7 separate regions of the Homo sapiens genome follow, and all the other regions are linked to region 4. The links come from fine-mapping of genetic effects on gene expression. A gene starts in region 4. Each other region holds a variant in brackets. All regions are shown on one strand. Distances are between the middles of the regions. Region 1 overlaps LOC124906253 (keratinocyte proline-rich protein-like). Region 2 has its middle 16 kb from the start of APOD. Region 3 overlaps LOC124905352 (vegetative cell wall protein gp1-like). Region 4 holds the start of MUC20 (mucin 20, cell surface associated). Region 5 holds the start of MIR570HG (MIR570 host gene). Region 6 holds the start of LOC124909478 (a long non-coding RNA gene). Region 7 has its middle 27 kb from the start of APOD.

The links.
Region 1: its variant is fine-mapped to the expression of MUC20 in whole blood (TOPMed, PIP above 0.99).
Region 2: its variant is fine-mapped to the expression of MUC20 in whole blood (TOPMed, PIP above 0.99).
Region 3: its variant is fine-mapped to the expression of MUC20 in whole blood (TOPMed, PIP above 0.99).
Region 5: its variant is fine-mapped to the expression of MUC20 in whole blood (INTERVAL, PIP above 0.99).
Region 6: its variant is fine-mapped to the expression of MUC20 in whole blood (TOPMed, PIP above 0.99).
Region 7: its variant is fine-mapped to the expression of MUC20 in blood mononuclear cells (TOPMed, PIP above 0.99).

Annotation. Positions count from the first base shown.
Region 1 is chr3:195,928,670-195,932,826 of GRCh38, forward strand. All of the region lies in intron 3 of LOC124906253 (keratinocyte proline-rich protein-like), which reads right to left. It also overlaps the pseudogene RNU2-11P. Among named protein-coding and RNA genes, the nearest start is that of TNK2, 22 kb to the left of the region's middle. RefSeq lists an enhancer at 1-150. The variant T/A (reference allele first, on the strand shown) is at 2,238.
Region 2 is chr3:195,598,207-195,602,363 of GRCh38, forward strand. No RefSeq gene overlaps it. Among named protein-coding and RNA genes, the nearest start is that of APOD, 16 kb to the left of the region's middle. RefSeq lists an enhancer at 2,525-2,694. The variant G/A (reference allele first, on the strand shown) is at 2,086.
Region 3 is chr3:195,816,038-195,820,194 of GRCh38, forward strand. It overlaps LOC124905352 (vegetative cell wall protein gp1-like), which reads left to right. Exons shown (of 3, transcript XM_047449429.1): 1 at 1-1,504; 2 at 1,593-1,692; 3 at 2,140-2,739. The coding sequence ends at 2,261. Among named protein-coding and RNA genes, the nearest start is that of MUC4, 6.2 kb to the left of the region's middle. RefSeq lists an enhancer at 393-1,198. The variant C/T (reference allele first, on the strand shown) is at 2,397.
Region 4 is chr3:195,719,319-195,723,475 of GRCh38, forward strand. It overlaps MUC20 (mucin 20, cell surface associated), which reads left to right and starts at 1,660. Exons shown (of 4, transcript NM_001282506.2): 1 at 1,660-1,765. The coding sequence starts at 1,690.
Region 5 is chr3:195,687,368-195,691,476 of GRCh38, forward strand. MIR570HG (MIR570 host gene) reads left to right here and starts at 1,131. Exons shown (of 5, transcript NR_122105.1): 1 at 1,131-1,430; 2 at 1,972-2,071. It also overlaps the pseudogene SDHAP2. The variant CAG/C (reference allele first, on the strand shown) is at 2,009.
Region 6 is chr3:196,033,716-196,037,812 of GRCh38, forward strand. It overlaps LOC124909478 (a long non-coding RNA gene), which reads right to left and starts at 1,738. Exons shown (of 5, transcript XR_007096234.1): 1 at 1,560-1,738. The variant G/A (reference allele first, on the strand shown) is at 1,826.
Region 7 is chr3:195,608,893-195,613,049 of GRCh38, forward strand. No RefSeq gene overlaps it. Among named protein-coding and RNA genes, the nearest start is that of APOD, 27 kb to the left of the region's middle. The variant T/A (reference allele first, on the strand shown) is at 2,571.

The DNA.
Region 1 (4,157 bases), 210 kb after region 4:
GCTCTAGACGCCCATTTAATATATTGTCCTCAGATAGAGGACATATCAAATACTAAACTAATAATATAGACTACACTTAATCTTTGCCGAAAGGCTGAGAAAGAATTGTTCTTCTTTAAAAAAGAAAAAAAAAAAAAAAAAAAACACAACTGTTTCTGGCCGGGCACGGTGGCTCACACCTGTAATCTCAGCACTTTGGGAGGTTCAGGCGGGCAGATCACTTGAGGCCAGGAGTTCAAGGCCAGCCTAGCCAATGTGGCAAAACCCCGTCTCTACTAAACATACAAAAATTACCTGAGTGTGGTGTCAGACGCCCGTAATTCCAGCTACTTGGGAGGCTGAGGCAGGAGAATCATTTGAACCTGGGAGGCGGAGGTTCCTGTGAGCTGAGATTATGTCACTGCACTCCAGCCTGGGCAACAGAGAAAGACTCCATCTCAAAAATAAATAAATAAACAAACAATACAAAATAAAATAAAATAAAAAATTGTAACCAAGCGCAGTGGCTCATGCCTTTAATCCCAGCACTTTGGGAGGCTGAGGTGGGTGGATCACCTGATGTCAGGAGTTCAAGAACAGCCTGGCCAACATGGCAAAACCCTGTTTCTACTAACAATACAAAAATTAGCCAGGCGTGGTGGCAGGCACCTGTTATCCCAGCTACTGGGGAGGCTGAGGTGGGAGAATCCCTTGAACCCAGGAGGCACAGGTTGCAGTGAGCTGGGATCACGCCACTGCACTCCAGCCTGGGCGACAAAGCAAGACTCCATCTCAAAAAATAAAAGCTTCTCTAGGCCCTCCATATTTCCATATAACTCTTAGTATCACGTTGTCAATTTATGTAAAAAAGCCTTGAATTTTGTATGGAGTTGTGTTAACTCTATAGATCAATTTGGGAAAATTTGACATCTTAACAATTGCTATTGATTGAATGTCTTTGCCCGCCTCCCAGATTTACATGTTGAAACCTGATACCCAGTGTGGTGGTATTTGGACAAGGGGACTTTGGGAGATGATAAGGCCATGAGGATAGATCCCACATAAATGGGATTCGTGTCCTTACAACAGAGACCTTAGAGAGCTGCCTCCCTCCCTCTGCCATGTGAGGACACAATAAGAAGACAGCTGTCTATGAACAGGAAAGCCAGTCCTCACCAGATACCAAATCTGCTGCCTCAATCTTACACTTACCAGCCTCCAGAACATGAGAAATAAATGTTTGCTGTTTAAGCCACCTATATTGCTGTAGCAGCCCAAACAGATTAAGACAATCATACTGAATCTTCCAATTCATGAGATATATTTTTGCCAATTCAGAAATGTGGTATATTAATTGAAATCTTTAATTTCTCTCAGCAACATTTTGTAGTTTTCAGCATTAAAAATTTTAACATCTTTTGTTAAGTTTTTTCCTAAGCATTCCATGTTCTTTAGCACTATTGTAAATTAATTTTTAATAATTATTTGATGCCGTTACATAATACAAATGATTTTATTTATTTATTTTTTTGTAGAGACAGGGCTTTGCCACATTGTTCAGGCTGGTCTTAAACTTGTGAGCTCAGGCATTCTTCCTGCCTCTGTCTCCCAAAGTTCTGGGATTACAGGCATGAGCCACGGCTCCCAACCAAGAATACAAATCATTTTAATATAGCAATCTTGTATCCCGTGACCCTGACAAATTCATTTATTCATTCTAGAAGTTTTTGTAAATTTCTTGGGCTATTATACAGGAGCAATCATAAACTTTGCAAATAAAGATAACTGTACTTATTTCTTTTTTAAAAAAATTTTACTTTAAGTTCTGGGACACATGTGCAGAGCGTGCAGGTGTGTTACATAGGTAGACACGTGCCATGGTGGTTTGCTGCACCTACCAACCCATCATCGAGGTTTTAAGCCCTGCATGCATGAGGTATTTGTCCTAATGCTCTCCTTCCCCTTGCCCCCAACCCCCGACAGGCCCCAGTGTGTGATGTTCCCCTCCTTGTGTCCATATTGTTCAACTCCCACTTAGGAGTGAGAACACGCAGTGTTTGGTTTTCTGCTCCTGTGTTAGTTTGCTGAGAATGATGGGTTCCAGCTTCACCCATGTCCCTGCAAAGGACATGAACCCATTCTTTTTCATGGCTGCGTTTAATTAATTAATTAATTAATTATTGAGACAGAGTCTCCCTTTGTCACCCAGGCTGGAGTGCAGTGGCACAATCTTGGCTCACTGCAACCTCTGCCTCCTG[T/A]GTTCCAGTGATTCTGCTGCCTCAGCCTCCTGAGTAGCTGGGATTACAGGTGCCCACCACCAAGCCTGGCTAATTTTTGTAATTTTAGTAGAGACGGGGTTTCACCGTGTTGGCCGGGCTAGTCTCAAACTCCTGACTTCAATGATCCCCCCGCCTTGGCCTCCCAAAGTGCTGGGATTACAGGCGTGAGCCACGGCACCTGGTCCAATTCTAACTGTTTCTGATCATTATAGCTTTTCTTTCTTTTTCTAATCTTATCACATTGGCTAGGGCTTTCCCAACAATGTTGAAAAGGTGGTGAGAGGAAAGTGGAGCAAGATGCTCAAGTAGGGCCCTCCAGCAATCACCCCCCACCCCACCCAACCCCCGGCCCCACCCACCCCCACCCCACCCCTGCCCAGGACCACTAAACCGAAAACTCTCAAGTTGAGAAAAAACCTGCATAAGAACCGAAAATCAGATGAACAACTGCAGTATCTGGTTTTCATATCATCTCAAGAAAAGCACTGAAGAGGACAGGAAAGACGATCTTGAAATGCTAACATCACCCATCTCCTACCCCATGGCAGCAGTCCCACGGCATGGAGAGAGAATCCGTGAGCTGGGGGAGGTAGAGCACAGTGATGATGGGACTTTGCACGGCACGGAGAGAGAATCCGTGTGCTGGGGGAGGCAGAGCACAGTGATGATGGGACTTTGCATGGCAGGGAGAGAGAATCCGTGTGCTGGGGGAGGTAGAGCACAGTGATGATGGGACTTTGCATGGCAGGGAGAGAGAATCCGTGTGCTGGGGGAGGTAGAGCACAGTGATGATGGGACTTTGCACGGCAGGGAGAGAGAATCCGTGAGCTGGGAGAGGCAGAGCACAGTGATGATAGGACTTTGCATTGCCACTCGGTGCTGCCCAGTCACAGTGGAAAACAACACAGGGCAGCACTCACAGACACAGCATTTAAACCAGCCCTAGCAAAGACAAATCCTCAATCTCAGTGGTGTGAACCTGAATTCTAGCAAGCCACGCACTGCTGGCTAAAGAGCTCTGGGATCCTAAATAAACTTGAAAGGCAGCCTAGGCCACAGGGACTGCAATTCCTGGAAATACCCTGGAGCCAGTGGACTTGGGGTGCACATGACCTAGTGAGACACCAGCGGGGGCAGCCCAGGGAGTGCTTGTGTCAACCCTCACCCACCCCCAGGCTGCGCAGCTCACAGCACTGGGAGAGACTCCCTCCTTCTACTGGATGAGAGGAGGGAGGAGGATAAAGAGGACTTTGTCTTGCCACTTGGGTACCAGCTCAGCCACAGTAAAATAACTCACCAAGCAGAGTCCTGAAGCTCCCCTGTTCTAGGCCCCAGCTACTGGACAACATTTCTAGGCACATACTGGGCCAAAAGGAAACCTGCTGCCTGGAAGGAAAGGGTCTGTCCTGGCAGCCTTCTTCACCTCCCGACTAAATAGCCCTTGGGCCTTAAATAAATATCAGCAGTAGCCAGGCAGGCAGCACTCACCACAGGCCTTGGGGGAGACTCAGAGCCTTACTGGCTTTAAGTGTGACCCAGCACATCTCCAGCTGTGATGGCCACAGAAAGAGGCTCCTTCTCCTTGAGAAAAAGGGAGAGAAGAGTAAAGAGGACTTTGTCTTGCACTGGAGGTACCAGCTCAGCCATAGTAAATAAAGCAGCAAGCAGATTCCTGAAGTCCCAGATTCCCAGCCTTAGTTCCTGGATGGCATTTCTGCACCTGCTCTGGGCTGGAAGGGAATCTGCCGCCCTGAAAAGAAAGACACAAGCCTGGCTGCATTTGCCACCTGCTGACTAAAGAGCCCCTGGGGCTTGAAGAAACATCAGCGGTCACCAAGCAGTTCTTGCCACGGGCCTGGGGTGGTAGCGGCCATGGGGAGAAGACTCCTGCTTGGGGAA
Region 2 (4,157 bases), 120 kb before region 4:
TGAAACCAGAAGAATTTCCTCCGTGTGTTGTTCTCAGTCTTATCCATACAAGATTGTTCAACACTCAATCTAGAGGACATTTGTTGGATATAAATGTCTGTCTCCCTATAGCACAAAATAACTAGGACATTATTCCATGGAACATTCCATGCGTCCATAGAATAGTTTATTCCATGATCCAAATGGTCTGATTGATTCTTCCACCAAATTCCATAACTAATTACTCTCTGTGTGTGTGTGTGTGTGTGTGTGTGTGTGTGTGTGTGTGTGTGTGTTTGGGGGTGTGGTACTGATTAGCCAAGAGCTGAAGCCCTTGAGCTCCGGGAGAAAAGCACCCTTTTCTGAAAGCTTCTCATGGTGGGATCAGAGCCAGCCTTAGGATTTTAGTGACAGGTCTGAGACCAATATCAAGAGGGAAGAAAGAAGGGTCTGGATGATTTTGAAGCTATTTTTGTGGGAAAACGAGATGACTCTCTCATGCAGTACCAACCAGACCTGGAACTCAGGCACACACATACAGTGCTCCTATTATTCTTCCCTCAGAAGGAGGCTGGTCCTCTCTCCTCCACATGCTTCTAGTGCAGTGAGGGTCCATTCCTGACTCTCCCTCTGTCTCCACCCCTCACACCTCTCTCTGACACGGCCCTTGAGGCTCATTTCACCCATTTTTGCCTGGGTGAAAATAATGGAGGAGGGCAGTGATCCTGCCCCACACCTGACCCCCACCCATCAGCCCTTGCAGGGCTGAACAAGCTGAACTTGGGGATGAGATAAGAAAGAGTCCTGAGAAAAGAGGAGAAGCAGAGGAAGACCAGAGTTATAACTTGGGGACAAAAGTGACCTTGCCTCTTTTTTTTTTTTTAATTTTGTATTTTTATTTTATTTTATTTTATTTTTTTGCAAATAGTGGGATCATAATCTTTTTTGTTTGTTTGTTTGTTTGTTTGTTTTTTATTGATCATTCTTGGGTGTTTCTCGCAGAGGGGGATTTGGCAGGGTCATAGGACAATAATGGAGGGAAGGTCAGCAGATAAACAAGTGAACAAAGGTCTCTGGTTTTCCTAGACAGAGGACCCTGCGGCCTTCCGCAGTGTTTGTGTCCCTGGGTACTTGAGATTAGGGAGTGGTGATGACTCTTAACGAGCATGCTGCCTTCAAGCATCTGTTTAACAAAGCACATCTTGCACCGACCTTAATCCATTTAACCCTGAGTGGACACAGCACATGTTTCAGAGAGCACAGGGTTGGGGGCAAGGTCATAGATCAACAGCATCCCAAGGCAGAAGAATCTTTCTTAGTACAGAACAAAATGGAGTCTCCTATGTCTACCTCTTTCTACACAGACACAGCAACAGTCTGATTTCTCTATCTTTTCACCACATTTCCCCCTTTTCTATTCCACAAAACCGCCATCATCATCATGGCCTGTTCTCAGTGAGCTGTTAGGTACACCTCCCAGACGGGGTGGCGGCCTGGCAGAGGGGCTCCTCACTTCCCAGACAGGGCAGCCGGGCGGAGGCGCCCCCCACCTCCCTCCCGGACGGGGCGGCTGCCGGGCGGAGACGCTCCTCACTTCCCAGACGGGGCGGCTGCCGGGCGGAGGGGCTCCTCACTTCTCAGATGGGGCGGCTGGGCAGAGACGCTCCTCACCTCCCAGACGGGGTCGTGGCCGGGCAGAGGCGCTCCTCACATCCCAGATGGGGCGGCGGGGCAGAGGCGCTCCCCACATCTCAGACGATGGGCGGCCGGGAAGAGGCGCTCCTCACTTCCCAGACTGGGCAGCCGGGCAGAGGGGCTCCTCACATCCCAGACAATGGGCATCCAGGCAGAGACGCTCCTCACTTCCCAGACGGGGTGGCGGCCGGGCAGAGGCTGCAGTCTCGGCACTTTAGGAGGCCAAGGCAGGCGGCTGGGAGGTGGAGGTTGTAGCGAGCCGAGATCACGCCACTGCACTTCAGCCTGGGCAACATTGAGCACTGACTGAGCGAGACTCCATCTGCAATCCCGGCACCTCGGGAGGCCGAGGCTGGCAGATCACTCGTGGTTAGGAGCTGGAGTCCAGCCCGGCTAACACAGCGAAACCCC[G/A]TCTCCACCAAAAAAATACGAAAACCACTCAGGCGTGGCGGCGCGCGCCTGCAATCGCAGTCACTCGGCAAGCTGAGGCGGGAGAATCAGGCAGGGAGGTTGCAGTGAGCCGAGATGGCAGCAGTACAGTCCAGCTTCGGCTTGGCATTAGAGGGAGACCGTGGAAAGAGAGGGAGAGGGAGAGGGAGAGGGAGAGGGAGACCTTGGGGAGAGGGAGAGGAAGAGGGAGAGGGAGAGGAAGAGGGAGAGAGAGAGGGAGCGACCTTGCCTCTTGTTGATTCCACATTCCCTTCCTTTGGGAAGATTTACATTCTCTATTTTATAGTAATCTGCCCAGTCCATATGGTTGGATGAGACTGGCTGGCTTTATCCTCTACCACCACTGCAGGGGGCAGGTGCATTACCCAGCCTGGACCCTTAGAGCAATCCCTCAGGCAGGACCCTGCATCCAGAGTGGTCAATCTTCCCTCAGATGTTTGCTGAATCTTTCAGGGAATACTCTCTTTTTCTTCCTTCAGTCACTACCATGAAGGACCTTGTCCACCCAGAACTTCCAGGGACCACATTTCAGGTAAGAGCCTTTTTGAGAATAAAGCAAAACAGAGGAACCATGGATCTATCACGGAACCCTTGGATCCATCTGTCCCTCAGGCAGAACCACCAGTTACTAATACAGGTGCATAGAAAGGAGGAGATCAGCCTGAGCACGGTGGCTCACGCCTGTAATTCCAACACTTTGGGAGGCCGAGGCGGGTGGATCACCTGAGGTCAGGAGTTTGAGACCAGCCTGGCCAACATGGTGAAACCCTGTCTCTACTAAAAATGCAAAATTAGCTGGGTGTAGTGGTCCATGCCTGTAATCCCAGCTACTTGGGAGGCCGAGGCAGGAGAATCACTTGAACCCAGGAGGCGGAAGTTGCAGCAAGCTGAGATCCCACCACTGCACTCCAGCCTGGGTAACAGAGTGAGACTCTGTATCAAAAAAAACAAAACAAAACAAAACAAAAAAAAAAACTAGAAAGGAGGAGATCAGAGGTGAATGTCCTCATCTTCTGGTGATGCTGTGACCAAAACTCAAAAGGACACGATGGAGAACCAGGAAAACCAGTGCTGTAATTCATTCCAGGCCTAAAGGCCCAAGAACCAGGAGCTCTGATGTTGAAGGGCAGGGGAAGATGGGCATCCCAGCTCAAGAGGAGAGGCAGAATTCATCCTTCCTCCACCCTTTTGCTCCTTTGGGCCCTCCATGGATTGGGTGATGCCTGTCTACATTGGTAAGGGTGATTTTCTTTACTCAATCAAATGATTCAAATGCAAATCTTTTCCAGAAACACCCTCACAGACACGCCCAGAAATAAATTCTTAGCAGCAATCTGGGCATTTCCTAGCCCAAGTGTTACTGGAAAGGGGTCCCGATCCAGACCCCAAGAAAGGGCTCTTGGATCTCATGCAAGAAAGAATTCAAGGTGAATCCATAGAGTAAAGTAAAAGCAACCTTACTAAGAAAGTAAAGGCATAAAGAATGGCTATCCCATAGACAGAGTGGCCCCAAGGCCTGCTGGTTGGCTATTTTTATGATTATTTCTTGATTATATGCTAAACAAGGGGTGGATTATTCACGAGTTTTCTGGGAAAGGGGTGGGCAATTCCCAGAACTGAGGGTTTCTCTCCTTTTTAGACCATATAGGGTAACTTCCTGACATTGCCATGGCATTTGTAAACTGTCATGGTGCCTGTGGGAGTGTCTTTTAGCATGCTAATGCATTGTAATTAGCATACAATGAGCAGTGAGGATGACCAGAGGTCATATTTGTAGCCATCTTGGTTTTGTCGGCTTCTTTACCACAATCTGTTTTATCAGCAAGGTCTTTGTGACCTGTATCTGTGCTGACCTCCTATCTCATGATGTGACTTAGAATGCTTAACCTCCTGGGAATGCAGCCCAGTAGGTCTCAGCCTTGTTTTACTCAGCGCTTATTCTAGATGGAGTCGCTCTGGTTTAAACACCTCTGATACAAGTTCACACATAAAATTAATTATCATAGTGGTTATGGAAGATTGAGATCATTCTA
Region 3 (4,157 bases), 97 kb after region 4:
CGGCCTCCTTCTCCTTACGCAGGTGCCACATCCTCCTGCCCAGCCCGGCCTCCTTCTCCTTACGCAGGTGCCACATCCTCCTGCCCAGCCCGGCCTCCTTCTCCTTACGCAGGTGCCACATCCTCCTGCCCAGCCCGGCCTCCTTCTCCTTACGCAGGTGCCACATCCTCCTGCCCAGCCCGGCCTCCTTCTCCTTACGCAGGTGCCACATCCTCCTGCCCAGCCCGGCCTCCTTCTCCTTACACAGGTGCCACATCCTCCTGCCCAGCCCGGCCTCCTTTTCCTTACACAGGTGCCACATCCTCCTGCTCAGCCCGGCCTCCGCCCTTCTCCTTACGCAGATGCCACATCCTCCTGCCCGGCCCGGCCTCCTTCTCCTTACCAGGTGCCACATCCTCCGCCCAGCCTGGCCTCCGCCCTTCTCCTTACCAGGTGCCACATCCTCCTGCTCAGCCTGGCCTCCGCCCTTCTCCTTACAAGGTGCCACATCCTCCTGCTCAGCCTGGCCTCCGCCGTTCTCCTTACCAGGTGCCACATCCTCCTGCCCAGCCTGGCCTCCGCCCTTCTCCTTACGAGGTGCCACATCCTCCTGCCCAGCCTGGCCTCCGCCCTTCTCCTTACGAGGTGCCACATCCTCCTGCCCAGCCTGGCCTCCGCCCTTCTCCTTACCAGGTGCCACATCCTCCTGCTCAGCCTGGCCTCCGCCCTTCTCCTTACCAGGTGCCACATCCTCCTGCCCGGCCCGGCCTCCTTCTCCTTACGCAGGTGCCACATCCTCCTGCCCGGCCTCCTTCTCCTTACCAGGTGCCACATCCTCCTGCCCAGCCCGGCCTCCTTCTCCTTACCAGGTGCCACATCCTCCTGCCCAGCCCGGCCTCCTTCTCCTTACGCAGGTGCCACATCCTCCTGCCCGGCCCGGCCTCCTTCTCCTTACACAGATGCCACATCCTCCTGCCCGGCCCGGCCTCCTTCTCCTTACCAGGTGCCACATCCTTCTGCCCGGCCCGGCCTCCTTCTCCTTACCGGGTGCCACATCCTCCTGCCCGGCCTCCTTCTCCTTACCAGGTGCCACATCCTCCTGCCCGGCCCGGCCTCCTTCTCCTTATGCAGGTGCCACATCCTCCTGCCCGGCCTCCTTCTCCTTACCAGGTACCACATCCTCCTGCCCAGCCCGGCCTCCTTCTCCTTACCAGGTGCCACATCCTCCTGCCCAGCCCGGCCTCCTTCTCCTTACGCAGGTGCCACATCCTCCTGCCCGGCCTGGCCTCCTTCTCCTTACACAGATGCCACTTCCTCCTGCCCGGCCCGGCCTCCTTCTCCTTACAAGGTGCCACATCCTCCTGCCCAGCCCGGCCTCCTTCTCCTTACCAGGTGCCACATCCTCCTGCCCGGCCCAGCCTCCTTCTTCTTACCAGGTGCCACATCCTCCTGCCCGGCCCGGCCTCGTTCTCCTTACACAGGTGCCACATCCTCCTGCCCGGCCCGGCCTCCTTCTCCTTACCAGGTGCCACATCCTCCTGCCCAGCCCGGCCTCCTTCTCCTTAAGCAGGTGCCACTCCCCTATAGCCTTCACATTCCTTCCACCAACTCAGCATTTGCTTCTGGGAGGACCCGACCCGAGACACTCACGTAAAAGAGGATGCCCACGTACAGATGTGGCAGCAGGCCCTCCGAGCTGGGATTCAGACCCAGGTCAGCACGACTCCAAAATCTTTCCTCCTCTGCAGCTCCTTATTCCATGGTTCAGCAGGGAGGCGGGCGGGCTGGAGGCCCCGGCACCTGCTGTATGTGGTCTCTATCCGAGGCCATGGTGAAAGCAGGGAGGTGGGTGGGCTGGGGGCCCAGCACCTGCTGTATGTGGCCTCTATCTGAGGCCATGGCGAAAGCAGGGGCCCTGGTACTAGGGTCACACAAAGGCCACTGTCATTCTCTTGGGATTCGGTTTCTCCTTTCCCTAAAAGTGCCAAGCATTCTCACGCCAATTAGCTCATTTCCTGTCTCATCTCACCTCTGTGGTGGAGCAGGGCATGATTTTTACGCATGCAACGTCTTCTTACGGGCATCCCTGTGAAGCAGGGCCACCCCGGGGCACAGGAGGGCCTGGAGGTCCAGGGATCTAAACTCATTCCATTCACCCAGCCTTAAGGAGAAGAAAACCGAGGCCAGGAAGTCAGCAAGAACATGAAGTCGGTGACCCAGCATCCAGGTCCCCGGATTTGCCACCTGTGTCCTTTTGTGGGGCTTCCCTTTGTAAAGCTTGAAAGAATAAGAGGATCTTAACATAATTTTAAAACTGGAAGAGACCCTGGTGACCATGTCATCCGAAGCCCTCATTCTACCGTGGAGGAGGTGTGGGCCCAGAGAGAAGGGAGGTCCTTGTTGGCGCAGCCGGTGAG[C/T]GGCAGGGTGTGTCCCGGAGCCCGGGTTTCCAGCGCCCTCTCTGTCTTGCTGCCGAGCGTCCACGTCTGTTCGGTTGTCTTTGCACACTCCTGGCTCCCAGTTAGACCGCTGCTCCCAGGCGGAACGTCTGCCACAGGGGACACGTACATGCGGCCACCATGGGGACTGAATGAGGGTGGGCCCACAAAGCTCTCCAACGCGGGGTTCTGACAGAAAGCCCAACCCGGGCCGAAAGCCATCTTTTAAAATGAAGTTTACTGGGTTTCTTTTTTCATTATAAAGTAATGCACACTGTCCACAGAGATATGAAAATATTTAAAAGTAGAGAGAAGAAAAACATCATCAATGTTTCACCACCCAGGAACAACCCTATTAACGCGTTGAGAGATTTCTGGCTTGTTTCTCATACATAGCTCATATCCATAGTTTAAATCTATCATATCCTAGATATAGTTTGATCTCCTCTTTACCACCTAACTTTATTTATTTATTTATTTATTCATTTTTATTATTTATTTATTTATTTTGAGACAGAGTCTCGCTCTGTCACCCAGGCTGGAGTGCAGTGGTGCGATCTTGGCTCACTGCAACCTCCGCCTCCTGGGTTCACGCCATTCTCCTGCCTCAGCCTCCCGAGTAGCTGGGATTATAGGCTCGTGCCCCCATGCCTGGCTAATTTTTGTATTTTCAGTAGAGACGGGGTTTCACCATGTTGGTCAGGCTGGTCCCAAACTCCTGACCTTGTGATCCGCCCGCCTCAGCCTCCCAAAGTGCTGGGATTACAGGCGTGAGCCACTGCGCCGGGCCATGACCTAGCTTTAAACCTAAAAGTCTCCCCAATTATTATAAAACTCCATTCACACATTTCTGAAGGCCACGTGATACTGCATTGGCTGCCACCATAACTGAACTAACTTGGACACTGGGTTATTCACGGCGTCCCTGTTACAGGTAATGCCCGGATCAGAGGCTTTGTACCCAAAGTGCCTTCTGTGTTCAGGATCATTTCCTGAACCTGGAAGCAGAGCTGGTGTGTTCTGATCGGCGGCTCTGACCCTCCTTCTACAGTCAGAAGTCCATAAACATGAGCTTGCTCTGTCCAGGATGTCGGCACTTTTTTGGACACTTGTGATCAATTAACCCTTTTAATGTTGATGGTCTAATGGCGGAAGCAGAGCTGACAATGGGGCCGGGCGCTGTGGCTCACGCCTGTAATCCCAGCACTTTGGGAGGCCGAGGCGGGCAGATCACCTGAGGTCGGGAGTTCAAGACCAGCCTGACAAACATGGAGAAACCCCATCTCTACTAAAAATACAAACTTAGTAGAAATGTTGGTGGTGTGCACCTGTAGTCCCAGCTACCTGGGAGGCTGAGGGAGGAGAATCACTTGAACCTGGGAGGCGGAGGTTGCAGTGAGCTGAGATCACACCACTGCACTCCAGCCTGGGCAACAAGAGCGAAACTCCGTCTTGAAATAATAAAATAAAATAAATAGAATAATTACTCCGGAAGCCTAAAAATGATGGGTGGATTAAAGACTCTGCAGGTGGGTGGGGAAAAGGTGGAGAACCCCTTCCCATCCCAGCTCTTTCCTGGGTGAGCTCCCAGCTATGATCCAGGACCAACTGCCAGGCTTCTCATTTTGATACTGGACACTATGCTTAGCCCAGCGACTGTCCTGAAGAAAGTGATCCAGACAAAATTTGAACAGAGAAAGAAGGCAGTGAGATTAGCCCATCAGGCTGGAAAGTGAGACTTGT
Region 4 (4,157 bases):
TAAAAAACACTGTTTGGATCAGATAGTTTTTCTGTTTGTAAACTGGTGAATTTGTATTTATTTCATGGCTAAATTTCTTTTTTTCTTTTCTTTCTCTTTTTTTTTTTTCTTTTTTTTTTTTTGAGGCAGAGTTTCACTCTTGTTGCCCAGGCTGGAGTGCAATGGCGTGATCTTGGGTCACCACAGTCTCCTCTTCCCTGGTTCAAGTGATTCTCTTGCCTCAGCCTCCCGAGTAGCTGGGATTACAGGCATGCACCACCATGCCTGGCTAATTTTTTGTATTTTTAGTAGAGATGGGGTTTCTCCATGTTCGTCAGGCTGGTCTCCAACTCCTGACCTCAGGTGATCTGCCCGCCTCGGCCTCCCAAGGTGCTGGGATTACAGGCGTGAGTCACCGCGCCCAGCTTTCATGGCTAAATTTCTGAAGTAAAAGCTATAGGATCTTTGTGTGTGTGTATATATTTAAAAGGCCTTTATAATTTCTATAATTTTATGTTTAATTGGCAATTAAATCTGTTTTAATTTCCCTCCAGCACACCAGACTTTTTCTCTCCATACGTTATGATGTAAATTTTGCTATTCGATTTTCACCTCAGTTTCCTTAAAATGCAAATTCAAGGCTATTTAGCTGACAACCGCTTAGAGTAGTAAAACAGGTTATCAAGAATTCGAAGGTGTGGCTGGGCACGGTGGCTCACGTCTGTAATCCTAGCATTTGGGAGGCTGAGCCGCAAAGATCTCTTGAGGTCAGGAGTTCAAAACCATCTTGGCCAACATGTTGAAACCCCGTCTCTACTAAAAATACAAAAAAAATTAGCCAGATGTGGTGGCAGGTGCCTATAATCCCAGCTACTCAGGAAGCTGAGGCAGGAGAATCACTTGAAGCCAGGAGGCAGAGTTTGCAGTGAGTCGAGATCAAGCCATTGCACTCCAGCCTGGGCAACAGAGTGAGACTCTGTCTCAAAAAAAAAAAAAAAAAAAGTAAAAAAGAATTTGAAGGTGTAAGAAAAAAGCTCTTTATGAATCTATAAGATGAACTTCTTTCAGCATACCTAATACATCTGTGTATTTATGTGTTGTTGTGTACACAGTGTTTTGCTACTGAAAATATATAAAAGAGCTCTAATTAATTGGCTTAAGAAAATAAAAGCACTTGGCTGGGTGCAGTGGCTCATGCCTGTACTCCCAGCACTTTGGGAGGCTGAGGTAGGTAGATCACCTGAGGTCAGGAGTTTGAGACTAGCCTGGCCAACATGGTGAAACCCCATCTCTACTAAAAATACAAAAATTAGCCCGACGTGGTGGTGCGCGCCTATAATCCCAGCTACTCCAGAGGCTGAGGCAGGAGAATTGTTGGATCCCGGGAGGAAGAGGTTTCATTGAGCTGAGATCTCATTACTGTACACTCCAGCCTGGGTGACAGAGCAAGACTCCATCTCAAAAAAAAAAAAAGAAGCTAGTGATTCCATATCTTCAAATCAAATTTCAGTGGAGTGTTTACCGGGCAAGGAAGGCAGGGGGGTCAGCTTGCTGACAGCCTCAACCTGCCAGCCCTCAGCCTGCACATTTGTGATCACCTGGTCACACACCTGGGCAGGAGGCTGCCCCTCCTCCCTGGTTTGAGGAAGCAGGAAAAGGTACCCGCGAGAGACAGCCAGCAGTTCTGTGGAGCAGCGGTGGCCGGCTAGGATGGGCTGTCTCTGGGGTCTGGCTCTGCCCCTTTTCTTCTTCTGCTGGGAGGTTGGGGTCTCTGGGAGCTCTGCAGGTAAGGAGGCCTAGAAGGGCCTGGTGGGCCTCTCCCCTAGTAGGGCTCTGGGAGTGAATTTCAGTATGAGCCACCCTTCATGGGCAAGGGCAGGCTCTCTCGGGTTGATTATAATGAACCACAGTGCTACTTGTGAAGTGCTATTATTGTTGATAAAGAGTGTGCAAATGACAGTGTGAGTGTAAGCGTGCATGGCGCTGCAGTACACACTAATCAACCATGACGATGTGTGTGAGTGTAAGCGTGCCTGGCGCTGCAGTACACGCTAATCAACCATGACGCTGCCATCGTAAGGGATGGCTGAGAGTTTGTCTTTATGAACGTGGGACAGTAAGTGGGGCACGGAGCGGGGGTGCAGGGAGGTGCCAGCTGGTGATCATTGTGCAGAAAGCTGAAGAATGTGGCTTAACAAGATTCTGACTCCTCCCAGTTTATTACCTAGCATGGATTTCCTTCAAAATACAGATTTCGTGTGAAAAGTCCAACTGCCACAAACTGCTTGGGAAGGGTGGATGCTGACAGGCAGGGCTTTTGTGAAAGACGGGAATGAACCCTGACCTGTCGCTAATAGGAGTTGTGCCAAACTCATCACATACATTAAAAAATAGAAAAGGATTTATTTTTTTTTTAGTTCTATGCTCCCTCTAAACCTCGAGTGGAGAGGCCGGGCGTGGTGGCTCACACCTGTAATCCCAGCATTTTGGGAGGCTGAGGTGGGTGGATCACCTGAGGTCAGGAGTTCGAGACCAGCCTGACCAACATGGAGAAACCCCGTCTCTACTAAAAATACAAAATTAGCCGGGGGTGGTAGCAGGTGCCTGTAATCCCAGCTACTCGGGAGGCTGAGGCAGGAGAATTGCTTGAACCTGGGAGGTGGAGTTTGCAGTGAGCTGAGATCGCACCCTTGCGCTCTGGCCTGGGCAACAAAAGTGAAACTATGTTTCAAAAAAAAAAAAGCTGCAGTGGAGAGTCTGGAGTTCCCATCCCCACCACTCACAGCCTCCCCCATCATCAGCGTCCCCCACCAGAGTGGCACATTTGATAGGACTGAGGAACCTACTTTGATGCATCATTATCATACATTGTATTTTTAATCCTCACAACGGCCCTGCAAGATCGGCCCTGTTTTTACCACCCCCCACCTCCACTGCTTTAAGGGTGAGGCCACTGTGCTTCTGGGCATCCAGTAACAACTCCTCGGAGCCAGAATCTGACTCCTCACAGGCCTGAGCACTGCACCCCGTGGCCTCCTGCCTGTGCTCACCGTGGCCTGGTCTGCGCTGCACGTGTCCCGTTAGCTCCACCTTACAGGTGCGGAAATGCAGGCTTGGAGCTGAGAGACTTGGCCAGGGTCACAGGGCAGAGAGCAGATTCTCCAACTCAGGGTCCCAAGTCCACACGCTTTCCTCTCCACCAGATTTGAAGATTGTACCAGGAGAGCCGCAGTGTTCCAGAGCTACTGAGGGGCTGGGCTGGGATTTGCTGTATTCGAGAAGACCCCCTTGGACCCGAGAGGCTGTGGGCTTGGGGAGCATGAGGAGGTTTCACAGCAGAAAGGACACCCCGGGGCTCCTGGATAAGCCAGAAAATGTGCCAGGGGAAGTCGGGCTCCAAGGGCACCACTCTGGGCTTCCAGCTGTGTGGGCTGGACCAAGAAGGCTCAAAGAAATGATCTCAGGCTTGAAGTGGGGAGAAGAAACTGTATTATGAAGGCAGACGAACAGTTCCTGCAAAAGTGAGATTTGTGTGTGCAGCTGGGCCGCACTGGACCAGGGATGAGAGTGGGTGCCCGGGACTCGCCTATACTGCCTGGGGGTGCAGCCCGCACTCCTCACTATAGTCAGATCAACTATGCGTGCTTTCCAGTGGCCTGGGAGAGGACTCCATAGGGAGGGATGCTTACCTTGTGGGCTTTGGAATATAAGCCCTTTCACCTTCTCCGCTGGTCCTCATCACGTTGGCAAGGCAGGTATTGTGACCCTGTTTTCTCAGGTGAGGACATGGAGGCTGGGAGGGGTCTAGAGACTGGCCTGGCTAGTAGGAGGCTGAGTCAGGATTTGAACCAGCAGATCATCTGACCCCGGAGCCAGTCGTGGGCGGCACAGCGGGAGCTGCAACCGAGGCTCTTGACTCCTGCGTCGTCATTCCCTGAGGTCCACAGGACAACCAGTTGGGGACCTGGGGCCCCATCCTGATGCCCTGGGGAGAGGTGCTAGGCCCCTTTTGGGTCTATGGGCTACTTTTGGGCCAGTGGAGCTGGGTAAAGACCATCTCAAACCCTGTGCCAGGGGAGGTCAGACTCCAAGAGCGCCACCTTTGGGCTTCCAGCTGTGTAGGCTGGACCAAGAAGGCTCAGAGAATTAGGGGGTTCGTATTTGATCCTTTTCCTTCC
Region 5 (4,109 bases), 32 kb before region 4:
TACTGTGTGAGCTCCGCCCCCTGCCAGAGCATTACTGTGAGCTCTGCCCCCTGTCATCATTACTGTGTGAGCTCCGCCCCCTGTCATCATTACTGTGTGAGCTCCGCCCCCTGCCAGAGCATTACTGTGTGAGCTCCGCCCCCTGCCAGAGCATTACTGTGTGAGCTCCGCCCGCTGTCATCATTACTGTGTGAGCTCCGCCCCCTGTCATTACTGTGTGAGCTCCGCCCCCTGTCATATCATTACTGTGTGAGCTCCGCCCCCTGTCATATCATTATTGTGAGCTCCGCCCCTGTCATATCATTGCTGTGTGAGCTCCGCCTCCTGTCAGATCAGTGGTGGCATTAGATTCTCATAGGAGTGGAATCCTGTTGTGAACTGCGCATGAGAAGGATCTAGGTTATGCCCCGCTTATGAGAATCTAATACTGATGATCTGAGATGGAACCGTTTCATCTCCAAACCATCCCCACACTTGTCAGTGGAAAAAGTGTCTTCCGTGAAACCAGTCCCTGGTGCCAAAAAGGTTAGGGACTGCCGGTTTAAATAACCAAATGCTAAAAGAACTGGCATAGAAGTAAATGGGCTGCTGCTTTATTTTTAGGCTGTTCTTTTTAGAGAGCAATGACAGTTATTTCCAAGTTTGTCATTAGAAAATAATATTAGGTTGGAGCAAAAGTAATTGCAGTATTTGCCATTGCTTTCAATGGTAAAAGGCACAATTACTTTTGCAGCAACTTAATATTATAAATTTGTTCTTAAAGTGTATTTTTGATAAGAAAGCCGTTTTGTTTTTCCTTCTGTTAATTTTTTGTTTTTTTCTTGGTCGAGACAGAGTCTTGCCATGCTGCCCAGGCTGGAGTGCAGTGGTGTGATCTCGGCTCACTGCAGCCTCCACCTCCTGGGCTCCAGCAGTCCTCCCACCTCAGCCTCCCTAAGAGCTGAGACTACAGGTGTGAGCCACCATGCCTGGCTAATTTTTAGAGACAGGGTTTCACCCTCTTGCCCAGGCTGGTCCCAAACTCCTGGGCTCAAGCAGTCCTCCTGCCTCAGCCTCCCAGAGTATTGGGATTATAGGTGTGAGCCACTGCCAGAAAAACGTTTCCTAAGACAAGGCAGGTCTTACATTATATTTAAATTTTTTTTAATGATGTCTTTTTTGGCAGTGCACAGCCAGAGGACAACACATCACACACAAGAAACAGTTGTGCTCATGTGATGGGGGCCTCAGCACTAGGAAGGAGTGGACTGTTGGCGCACGCAGCAGCTTGAATAAATCTGAAAGTCACTACGCTGCGTAAGAGAAGCCAAATAAAGCGCATGCTGTGTACAGAGGGTGTCGAGAATGCCTCCTACGTGACGGAAAGCAGATCCGTGGTTCCCTGCAGACTGGCAGGAGCAGATTCCAAAGGCACAGGAAGAAGCTTGCAGGTAGAATGTGTTCATTACCTTCTGCGCATTATACCACAAAAAAGCTGGGAATAAAAATGCTAACCAAAAAAAAAGGTGAAAGTAGATAAAATTTCTCAACTGTGTGATGGGTAAACGTGCAGGTTTGCTGTCATGCTTTGTTTATGAAGCTGTGGGGTACAAGGACTCTCATACGTCACTGTGGAATGCAGAACGTTGCAGCCTCATGGAAGAGGATTTGGCAGCATCTAACAAAACGACATGGCATTTGCCCTTAGACTCAGCAATTCTAGAATCTGCCTCAAAAAAAACTCTGGCAAAGAAATGAAAGGACTTTATCCACAGAGTTCTTTTCACAGCCTGAATGTGTTTGCCACAAAGTTCTTCACTGTGGCATTTGTAAAACTGGAAACAATCAAAATGTCCATCAGTAAGGGATTAGGAACATTAATTCGTGCAGTGGGGAACTCCGTACCAGAAGGAGGAATGAGGAACGCCTATTGATAAGGGGCAGAGTACATATAATATAATGCAAATATATATTTGCTTTTTCTTAAAACAGTACAAAGATAAAAATCTAAAGTGGTTGCTGTGGAGGA[CAG/C]GGGTCAGTGGTGGAAGTGAGACCGAAATAGACTCTGAAGTAATATCTGGACTTTGAAATTGTAAGTGTTTTACATATTACCAAACTAAGTTTTTAAGATAGTCCCTAAAATTGAAAGAATGGTATCTGAAATGAATGAATCTAAATTCCTTGGATTGCATTCTACAGGCGCCAACCCTGAGACAAAAATTTGGAAGGTGGCCCTGAGCAGCAGCTGAAGGGAAGTGGGAGGTGAGACAGGAAAGAGGCGGCAGCATGGGGCGTCCGGGAGCCGGGTCTCATGTGGACAGCTGGGCCCGTGTTCACTGTGGGAGCTGGTGCGTTCCTTCACCAGCCCACGCTGCACAGGTTCAGGATGGTCAATTCCGGGCACCCCTGGCCTGCTCCAGGACATGCTGCTGCCACCAGAGAAAGCCCCTAGGCAGCGTCCCGGGTGCTGGTGGTGTCAGAATCGAGTTTGAGTCTGAGGAGTGACCTGGGGCTGGCTGGGCTAGGCAGCATCACGGGGTTCTGCAGCCCAACTGCACATCAGGCTGGTGACAGTCACGCAGCCTATTACTTCATGTGTCATCAGAGGATCGCTAGAACACAGCACTTCAAGTGTGCAGATTTAGTGAGCCATAGTCTAAAGACAAATAGAGCCACTGAATCCTAAATTTCAATCAATCATCTCCGTTACTCGTCTTATAGGTATTAATCCTTTGAAATTATGTGGGGTGGGAGTTAAAGCAAATAACTAATTATGTTAATGCTAAAACTAAGATTTTTCTGGCAAGGGAAAATCCTCCCAAGTCCCAGCACTTTGGGAGGCCGAGGTGGGCAGATGACCTGAGGTCAGGAGTTTGAGACCAGCCTGGCCAACATGGTGAAACGCCATCTCTACTAAAATTGAAAAATTAGCTGGGCATGGTGGCAGGTGCCTGTAATCCCAGCTATTGGGGAGGCTGAAGCAGGAGAATCGCTTGAAACAGGAGGCAGAGATTGCAGTGAGCCGAGATTGTGCCACTGCACTCCAGCCTGGGCAACAGGAACAAAACTCTATCTCAAAAAATAAAACAAGATTTTTCTGAGAAAAAGGTGTAAAACCGTATACTAAATTTGAAATAGAAATATAAGCGTGAACTCATTTGTTGTTCTTTTACCGTAGACACATTTTCTACCTCTGCCCCAGTAGCAGTAGACACATCAAGCACCTAGAAAGTGGTCTCTAATACATGAAAACCATGAATTCATAGTGGTGGTTTCAAAGCCAAAACCAAACAAACACATGTAATTGGTCACTCTTGGAGGTACCTAGGGCACTAACTCCTAACACTGGGAATGGACACTTGAAGGAAGATCAGTAATTATCCTGTCTTTTCTCTACAAATTGCAATTCAGGGAAACCTTGTTGATTAGGGAAAGTTCTTTACATAAGAATTCCTGCAAGTAAGTGAGTAAAGAATGACAGTTTAAGAATTGTCCCAGCCTGGCCAACATAGTGAAACCCCATCTCTAAAAATACAAAAAATTAGCCAGGCATGATGATGGGTGCCTGTAATCCCAGCTACTCAGGAGGCTGAGGCAGGAGAGTTGCTTGAACCTGGGAGACGGAGGTTGCAGTGAGCCGAGAGTGCGCCACTGCACTCCAGCCTGGGCAACAAGAGTGAGACTCTGTCTCAAAAAAAAAAAAAAAGAATTGTCAAATTGCTACCCCTAATGCCATGGTTCTCTAACCTGTGTAACAGGATCAGCTGGAGGGACGCTACCCCAGACCTTCCAATTCAGTCCTGGGGGGACCCTAGTCCAGACCTTCCGATTCGGTCCTGGGGGGGCCCTAGTCCAGACCTTCCAATTCAGTCCTGGGGGGACCCCACCCCAGACCTTCCGATTCAGTCCTGGGGAGACCCTACCCCAGATCTTCTGATTCAGTCCTGGGGGGACCCTCGTCCAGACCTTCCGATTCAGTCCTGGGGGGACCCCACCCCAGACCTTCCGATTCAGTCCTGGGGTACCCCACCCCAGACCTTCCGTTTTCAGTCCTGGAGGGACCCTACCCCAGATCTTCCGATTCAGTCCTGGTTCGGTCTGAGAATTTGCATTTCTAACATGTCCAGGGA
Region 6 (4,097 bases), 310 kb after region 4:
TGGGAGGACTGCTTGAGCCCAGGAGGTTGAAGTTACAGTGATTGTGCCACTGCACTCCAGCCTGGGGGACAGAGGGAGACACCAGTCTCAAACAAAACAAAACAAACAAACAAACAAAAAATGTAGTAAAAATGGCCATTGTTTCCTTGTTCTTGATTTTATAGATGAACAATTCAGTTTTTTATCATAAATTTTGGATGCTAGCTGTAAGTTTTATTAGGTGCCATTTTATTAGTTTGAGAAAGCTTCCTATTATCCCTAGTTTTATAATGAAACGGTGTAAATCTGCACAAGATGCTATTTCTGCATCTATGGCATGATCATGCATTTTCTCCTTTATTCTGTCAATATGGTGAATTACCCTGATTGATTTTTCATGACTTTATTGATATATAATTTACATACAATAAAAATCATCCTTTAAGGCGGGGCACGGTGCCTCATGCCTGTAATTTCAGCACTTTGGAAGGCCAAGATGGGCGGATCGCTTGAGCCCAGGAATTGGAGACCAGCCTGGCAACATGGCGAAACCCTGTCTCTACAAAAAAATACAAAAATTAGCCAGACACGGTGGCATGCACCTCTAATCCCAGCTACTTGGGATGCTGAGGCAGGAGGATCGCTTCAGCCTGGGTGATGAAGGCTGCCGTGAATGGTGATTGCACTACTGCACTCCAGCCTGGGCAACAGAGTGAGATCTTGTCTCGAAAAAAAATTGTTAAAGACATTAAATTAAAAATATTTAAACAAAGGCTGGGTGCAGTGGCTCACGCCTGTAATCCCAGCACTTTGGGAGGCCAAGGCGGGCAGATCACAAGGTCAGGAGTTCAAGACCAGCCTGGCCAACATAGTGAAAACCCGTCTCTACTAAAAATACAAAAATTAGCCGGGCGTGGTGGCACGTGCCTGTAGTCCCAGCTACTCGGGAGGCTGAGGCAGGAGAATCGCTTGAACCTGGAGGCGGAGCTTGCAGTGAGCCGAGATCGTGCCACTGCACACCAGCCTGGGAGACAGAGCGAGACTTCTTCTCAAAAAAAATAAATAAATAAAAAATTAAACAAAGTAATGGTTGGTTGGATGCAGAAAATAGTTTAAAACATTTTTTAAATTAAAAAAATCACTCTTAAAAAGTGAATTCACTCTTTAAAAGTGTACAATTCGGTGGTTTTTAAGACATGCACAGAGCTGTATAACCAGCACCCCTACCTAATTTTAGAACATTCTGTCACTGCAAAAAGAAACCCCATACCCATTAGCTGTCACTCCCCGCTTCCTCCTCATCCAGCCCATGGCAATCATTCATCTACTTTCTGTCTGCGTAGATGTGCCTGTTCCGGGCATTTCACAGAAATCAAATCATACCTATGTGGTCTTTGGTGAAGGGCCTCTTTCACTCAGCATAGTGGGTTCAAAGTACACCCGTGTTGTAGTACTTTATTCCTATTTTTTAGAATGTTTTATTGTGGTAAAACACACATAACATAAAATACACTATTTTAGCCACTTTTAAGTATACAACTCAGTGGCACTAAGTACATTCACAATGTTGTGTAACTCACCACTATTTCCAGAGCTTTCTCTTCATCCTAAACAGAAACTCTGTGCCCATCAAGCAGTAACTTCCCGTTTCCTCTGTACCCCAGCCCCTGGCAACCTCTATTTTACTTTCCATCCCTGTGAATCTGCCTAATCTGGGTACCTCATATAACTGGAATCATACAGTATTTGTCCTTTTATGTCTGACTTATTTCACTTAACATAACGTTTTCAAGGTTCTAAAATACAAAAGGTTCCAAAAATACAAAAATTAGCCGGGCGTGGTGGC[G/A]GGCGCCTGTAGTCCCAGCTACTTGGGAGGCTGAGGCAGGAGAACGGCGTGAACCCGGGAGGCGGAGCTTGCAGTGAGCCGAGATGGCACCACTGCACTGCAGTCTGGGCGACAGAGCGAGACGCCGTCTCAAGGAAAAAAAAAAAAAGGAAGGGCAAAAACCGCCATTACTTTTCCGCCAACCCAAATCGTTGGGTGACTCAGCGCATGCGCATTCCTCTGCGGGGCCACATCTCAAGCCACAGGCTTCCCAGAGCCTATAGGAGAGATCCCACATTAATTTAATTTAATTATTTATTTATTTACTTACTTTTTTAAAAAAATTTATTTGAGACAGAGTCTCTTTCTGTCGCCCAGGCTGGAGTGCATTGGCTCAATCAAGGCTCACTGCAGCCTCGACTTCCGCGGACTTAGGTGATTTTCCCACCTCAGTCTCCCGAGTAGCTGGGACTACAGGCGCACGTAACCCCCAACCCGGATAATTTTTGTATTTTTTGGTACAGACGGGGTTTCGCTATGTTAGCCAGGCTGTTCTCGAACTCCTGGCCTCAGGTGATCCGCCTGCTTCAGCCTTCCAAAGTGCTGGGATTACAGGCCTGAGCCACCATGCGGGGCCTGAATTTCAAATTAGGTTTTTCTATTTCTGCAAAAAACACCCCTGGGATTTTGAAAGGGATTTTGCATTAACTCTGTAGATAGGCTGGGCAGTATTGTCATCTTAACAACTACGCCTCCCAATCCCCAACATGGAATATCCTTCCATTTATTTATGTCTTCTTTAATTCTTTTGGCAATGTTTTATAGTTTTCAATACATAAGTTTAAGTCTTGTGCCTCCTTCGTTAAATTTATTCCTGTGTATTTTTAATTCTTTTTGATGCTTTTTTTTTTTTTTTTTTTTTGAGACAGAATCTCACTCTGTCACCCAGCCTGGAGTGCAGTGCAGTGCAGTGGCACAATCTCACTGCAACCTCCGCCTCCCAGGTTCAAAAGATTCTCCTGCCTCAGCCTCCCAAGTAGCTGGGATTACAGCTGCGTGCCACCACACCCGACTGATTTTTGTATTTTTAGTAGAGACGGGGTTTCACCATGTTGGCCAGGCTGGTCTCGAACTCTTGACCTCAGGTGATCCACCCACCTTGGCCTCCCAAAGTGCTGGGATTACAGGCGTTGAGCCACTGCACCCAGCCAGAATTGTTTTCTTAATATCCTCTCGGAATGTTCATTGCTAGTGGATAACAATGCAGCTGATTTTCGTGTGTTGATTTTGTATCTTGCCATGTCTCTGAATTCTGGAGTGAGATGTAACCATTTTATTGTGGATTCTTTAGAATTTGCTACATGTAAGAGCGTGTCTTCTGTGAACAGAGGTGATTTTACTTCTTCCTTTCCAGTTCAGATGCGATTTATTTTTGGCCGAGTTGCTGTGACTACAACGGCTACTACTGTGTTGAATAGAAGTCCTTATCTTCTTTCTGATGTTTGGGGTAAAGTTTTAAGAAATTCACCATTGTATATGATATTAGCTGTGGGTTTTTCAGATATAACCTTTATTATTTTGAAGGAATTCCCTTCCATTCCTAGTTTATTGACTGCTTTATCATGAAAGTGTGTTGGACTTTGTCAAATACTTTTTCTGTATCAATTGAGATGATCATTTGGGGTTTTCCCCTTCATTCTATTAATGTGGTGCATCACCTTGGTTGATTTTCCTATGTTGAACCATCCTTGCATTTACAGACTAAACCTCACTTAGTCATGGTATATAATTATTTTGATAAGCTGCTAAATTTGGTTTGCTAGTATTAAACATTTTGCATCAATATTCATAATGGCGGACGGGCACAGTGGCTCACGCCTGTAATCCCAGCACTTTGGGATTCCGAGGTGGGTGGGTCACGAGGTCAGGAGTTCGAGACCAGCCTGGCTAACACGGTGAAACCCCATCTCTACTAAAAATACAAAAATTAGCTGGGTATGGTGGTGCGCGCCTGTAATCCCAGCTACTGGGGAGGGTGAGGCAGGAGAATCGCTTGAACCCGGCAGAGGGAGGTTGCAGTGAGCCGAGATCGTGCCACTGCACTCCAGCCTGGGCGACAGAGCGAGACTGTCTCAAAAAAAAAAAAAAAAAAAAAAGAAGAAGAATTCACCAGTGAAACCATCTGGTGAAGAAAAGGCCAGGTCTTACTGATTCAACCTTAGTAGTTCAGAGTCTATTCAGATGTTCTACTGCTTTATGAGTCATTTCTGGTATATCGTGTATTTCTAGGAAT
Region 7 (4,157 bases), 110 kb before region 4:
AGCCTTCAAGCTGCTTTTAATTATTCCTGGGTTTAAGCCAAGCTACATGTGGGAGTCATTTAGTTTATAGTTTAAATGATAGTAACCCTTCCCTCAAACTCAACCAGCCTTGTAACACTGAGAGACCACCAGGCTAGGAGGAGGAGATGAACCTAAATTCTGCTAAGGTGTAGACATAAACAACTGTGAGGCATTATTCCAGAAGCCACAAGATATGCAACTTCCTCAGTTACCCCTGCAGATAATGTTACTTTTGTAGAACCTAGGATTGGCCTTCTGAGATATCTTCTCAGGATTTTTTGCATGTCTGATGACCGATGGCTCCACCGGGACCAGCTAGTGGCTTCTGTTTCCCCACCCAGAAGCAACTCAGAGAAAGAGGACAGCTTTGACGCCCTATGATTTCATCTCTGACCCAATCAGCACTCCCCATACCCTAGCCCACTACCTACCAAATTACCTTTGAAAAATCCCTAACCTCCAAGACTTAGATGAGTTTGATTTGAGTAATAACTCTGCCTCCCACATGATGTGGCTGGCATCATATCAATTAACCTCTTTCTTTACCGCAATGCCATGGTCTCCATGAACTGATTTTTTTTGTGCAGTGGGCAGGAAGAACCCATGGGGCAGTTACACATCTTGAAAGAGAAGCTCTTCCTGTGAGGTACATCAACTGTGGTTAAGAATCTTACGTACTTATCATTTTTTGTTGTTGTGAGAACATTTAACATCTACTCTTTTCTTTTTCTTTTCTTTTTTCTTTTTTTTTGAGGTGGCGTCTTACTCTGTTGCCCAGGCTGGAGCGCAATGGCGTGATCTTGGCTCACCACTACTTGCTGGGTTCAAGTGATTCTCTTGCCTCAGCCTCCTGAGTAGCTGGGATTACAGGCATCTACCACTCTTTTAGCAATTTTATTTATTTATTTATATAATTTTTTAAAAAATATCTTTAACTTTTATTTTAGATTCAGGTGGTATATGTGCAGGCTTGCTATATGGGTATATTGCGTGATGCTGAGGTTTGTGGTATGAGTGATCCCATCAGCCAGACAGTGGGCATTGTACACAAGCAATATACATAATGGTGTGGTATGGTGGCACATACCTGTAATCCCAGCTACTTGGTAGGCTGAGGCAGGAGAATCATTTGAACCCAGGTGGCAGAGGTTGCAGTGCACTGAGATCATACCACTGCACTCCAGCCTGTGCAACAGAGTGAGACTCTGTCTCAAAAAAAAAAAAAAGAAGGTGGTTTTATAATCAGCTATAAAACTCTAAAAGGTGCTCTTGAATGCAGGTTTCTGCTAACTTTGGAGATTGTGACATTAGAATAGAGGAAAAACTTTCGGGACTCATGGAGAGCTGAAATGTTCATGAATATCAAGCAGAACAGGAATTAACTGCATGGACTGAAGTAATCTTTTTGACTTTTTGCTTAAAACGTTGTTGATCTTTTGTTTTGTTTTTTCAGAGTCAAGGAAACTTTTCTTTTGAGCTATTGACAGCTTTTAACAAGTTATTGTACTCCTATGAACAAAATTTGGAGCATATTCATTTCTCTCTACCTGATTTCTCCAGAATTTGGCAACTGTTTGTGAGTATCCTTATCACAATATAGTTATTTGCATAAGTGCAATAATAATCTGTCTTTATTTGTAACAGGACACAATTGGAGAAACTGGTTATTTTACCAGCACTTTGACTAGAATGATGTGCTTTCCTTTAAGGAATTAAACTTGTTTTATGGAGCCAGTAAAAGCCACATGCTCTGTCTACACAGTCGCTGAACAGGGTTCCTGCCCTGTGGTAAGTAAAGAATGTCACTTTCCGACAGGCCCAGGAGCCCCAAGTTTTACCTTGGACCCTCAAAAGGAGAGGAATTCATGCAACTCATAGGTATTTGATGGTACAAATCCATGGCAGGGCTCAGCTTTAAACAAGTCTTTTCTGAGATTCCTTCTATGGAACAAAGTTTCATCAAAGCCAATTTAAAAGCCTGTGTAAAAAAATAATTATTCTAGCTGCACTGTATACAAATAATCAGGCCAAGAATAATAAAGGAAATCAGTCCTACCATGATTTGTCTTTAGTAAAAATGAGAAACTGGAGAGAGAAAAACTATGTTTTAAGAACTATAGTACACCTGTTGTTAGATTCTAGTCTTGCCTAATGTTTTTCCATTTTTATTATTTTCTGCAGTTTGGACCAAATTCTAATTTTTCTTGGCTACAAGTCTTCAAAATAATGTTTTCCATTTTTTCCCTTTCTTTTTTCCCATTTTTCCTAATTTGGAGTTACTGAAAGCTAAGCTGTGCTTTTTGAAGCCCTGTGAACTGAAGCTAGACAACTTAAACTTCAGAAGAAAATAACAGCAGCCTATTTACATATATAAGCTACTTTCATACCTGCCTACTGACGTATGGACTTCAGAGTAATGTGGCCTATATCGATTTTCTAGGATCGTTATTTTGTTTGTTGTTTTTCTCCCTTCCTCCCCCTATTTTCTCTTCACAGGACATGAGGATTCTCAACCTGCTAATAATGAGCTACCTATCTAGGGTAGCTAT[T/A]GGGACCTACCTATCTAGGAATAAACCATCCTAGCCATGAGAGACCCGATGAAACCTCAGACCAGAGACTCATTTTCTTCTAAAATGCTTTCTCCAAAAGATTTTTAAAAAGAAAAGGGGGAAATGTGAAAGGAAACTGTCTTGGGCCCCCCAAAATCATGAAGCTAAAGAGAAAAGTCAAGCTGGGAACGGCTTAGGGCAAACCTGTCTCCCGTTCTATTCAAAGTCACCCCTCTGCTTACTGAGATAGATGCATATCTAATTGCCTCCTTTGGAGAGGCTTATCAGAAACTCAAAAGAATGCAACCATTTGTCTCTCACCCACCTGTGACCTGGAAGCCCCCTCCCTGCTTGAGTTGTCCCACCTTACCAGACTGAACCAATGTTCGTCTTACATATGTTGATTGATGTCTCATGTCTCCCTCAAACGTGTAAAACCAAACTATGCTCTGACCACCTCGGCACATGTCACCAGGACCTTCTGAGGCTGTGTCATGGACGCGAGTCCTCAAACTTCGCAAAATAAACTCTCTAAATGAACTGAGACCTGTCTGAGATATTCGGGGTTCACAGTTTGCTGTCTCTCTTCACTAGGAGAGTTGTTCCGTGAAGGCCGGGATCTCTTTTACTGAGTGATGTATTCCAAGTGCCTGGAGCAATGTCTGGCATGTAGAAGGAATTCCGTACGTGCATTAAATTAATGAACTAGCCTCCTACGCTCATTCAAGGTGAGAGCTGAGTTTGGCTAAAATATGGCCCAGGAACTTTCTGCATAAGACTCTTATGGCCCCCAGGGCTAACAGTCATCTGCCCAGGCTTGTAAATTTCCCAAATACCGAGGAAAATGGTCCAAAATTCAGCAAACCCAGGGAAGCTCTCAGCCAGGCTTCCTTTCCAGGGATTCCTCACTTCCTCATCTGCAACAGGCTGGGGTGGACTCACTTGCTGCTGGAATGAGGAAGCCCCTATCCCTGCGGGGGCGGGGCTGGAGGAGGGCTGGGGTGGCTGAGAGGAGCTGCATTGGTGCTTAGTCTCTTCTCCATCTTCCCTTGGGCTAAGCCTCACAGTGGGTCGCAGCTACTAGATGGGGTCTAAGAGAATACAGTCCTTGCTGTGGCCCTGCCCTCCTCTCCCTACCTGACTCCTCCTGGGGGGAGTCCTTGTCTCATTTGATAAGCAAAGAGCTGGGGCTGAGTGGAGGATGGAAGGGGCTCAGCCTACAGATCAATGGTGTCCAAGATCCCCACCCCAAGTGCTGGGTTTTGTCCCCTATGGACCCCCCTCAGCCTCTTCTGGGGAGTCTTCCTCCTCCTATTCCCTCCCATTCCCTCCTTCTTCCCAGCAGCACAGCCCAGAGCAGAGTAAATTTCTGGAAGACAATGTCACGCCCAACGCAGAACCCCAGACCATGGGGCCAAAAGGACCCTGTAGATCATGTTGACGGAGGCCCAGAGAGGGCAGATAACTTGTATGTTCACACAGCTTCTTGGTCAGTGTTAAGAGTAAATTTCTGGAAGACAATGTCACACACCCAATGCAGAACCCCAGACCACAGGGCCAAAAGGACCTTGTAGATCATGTTGATGG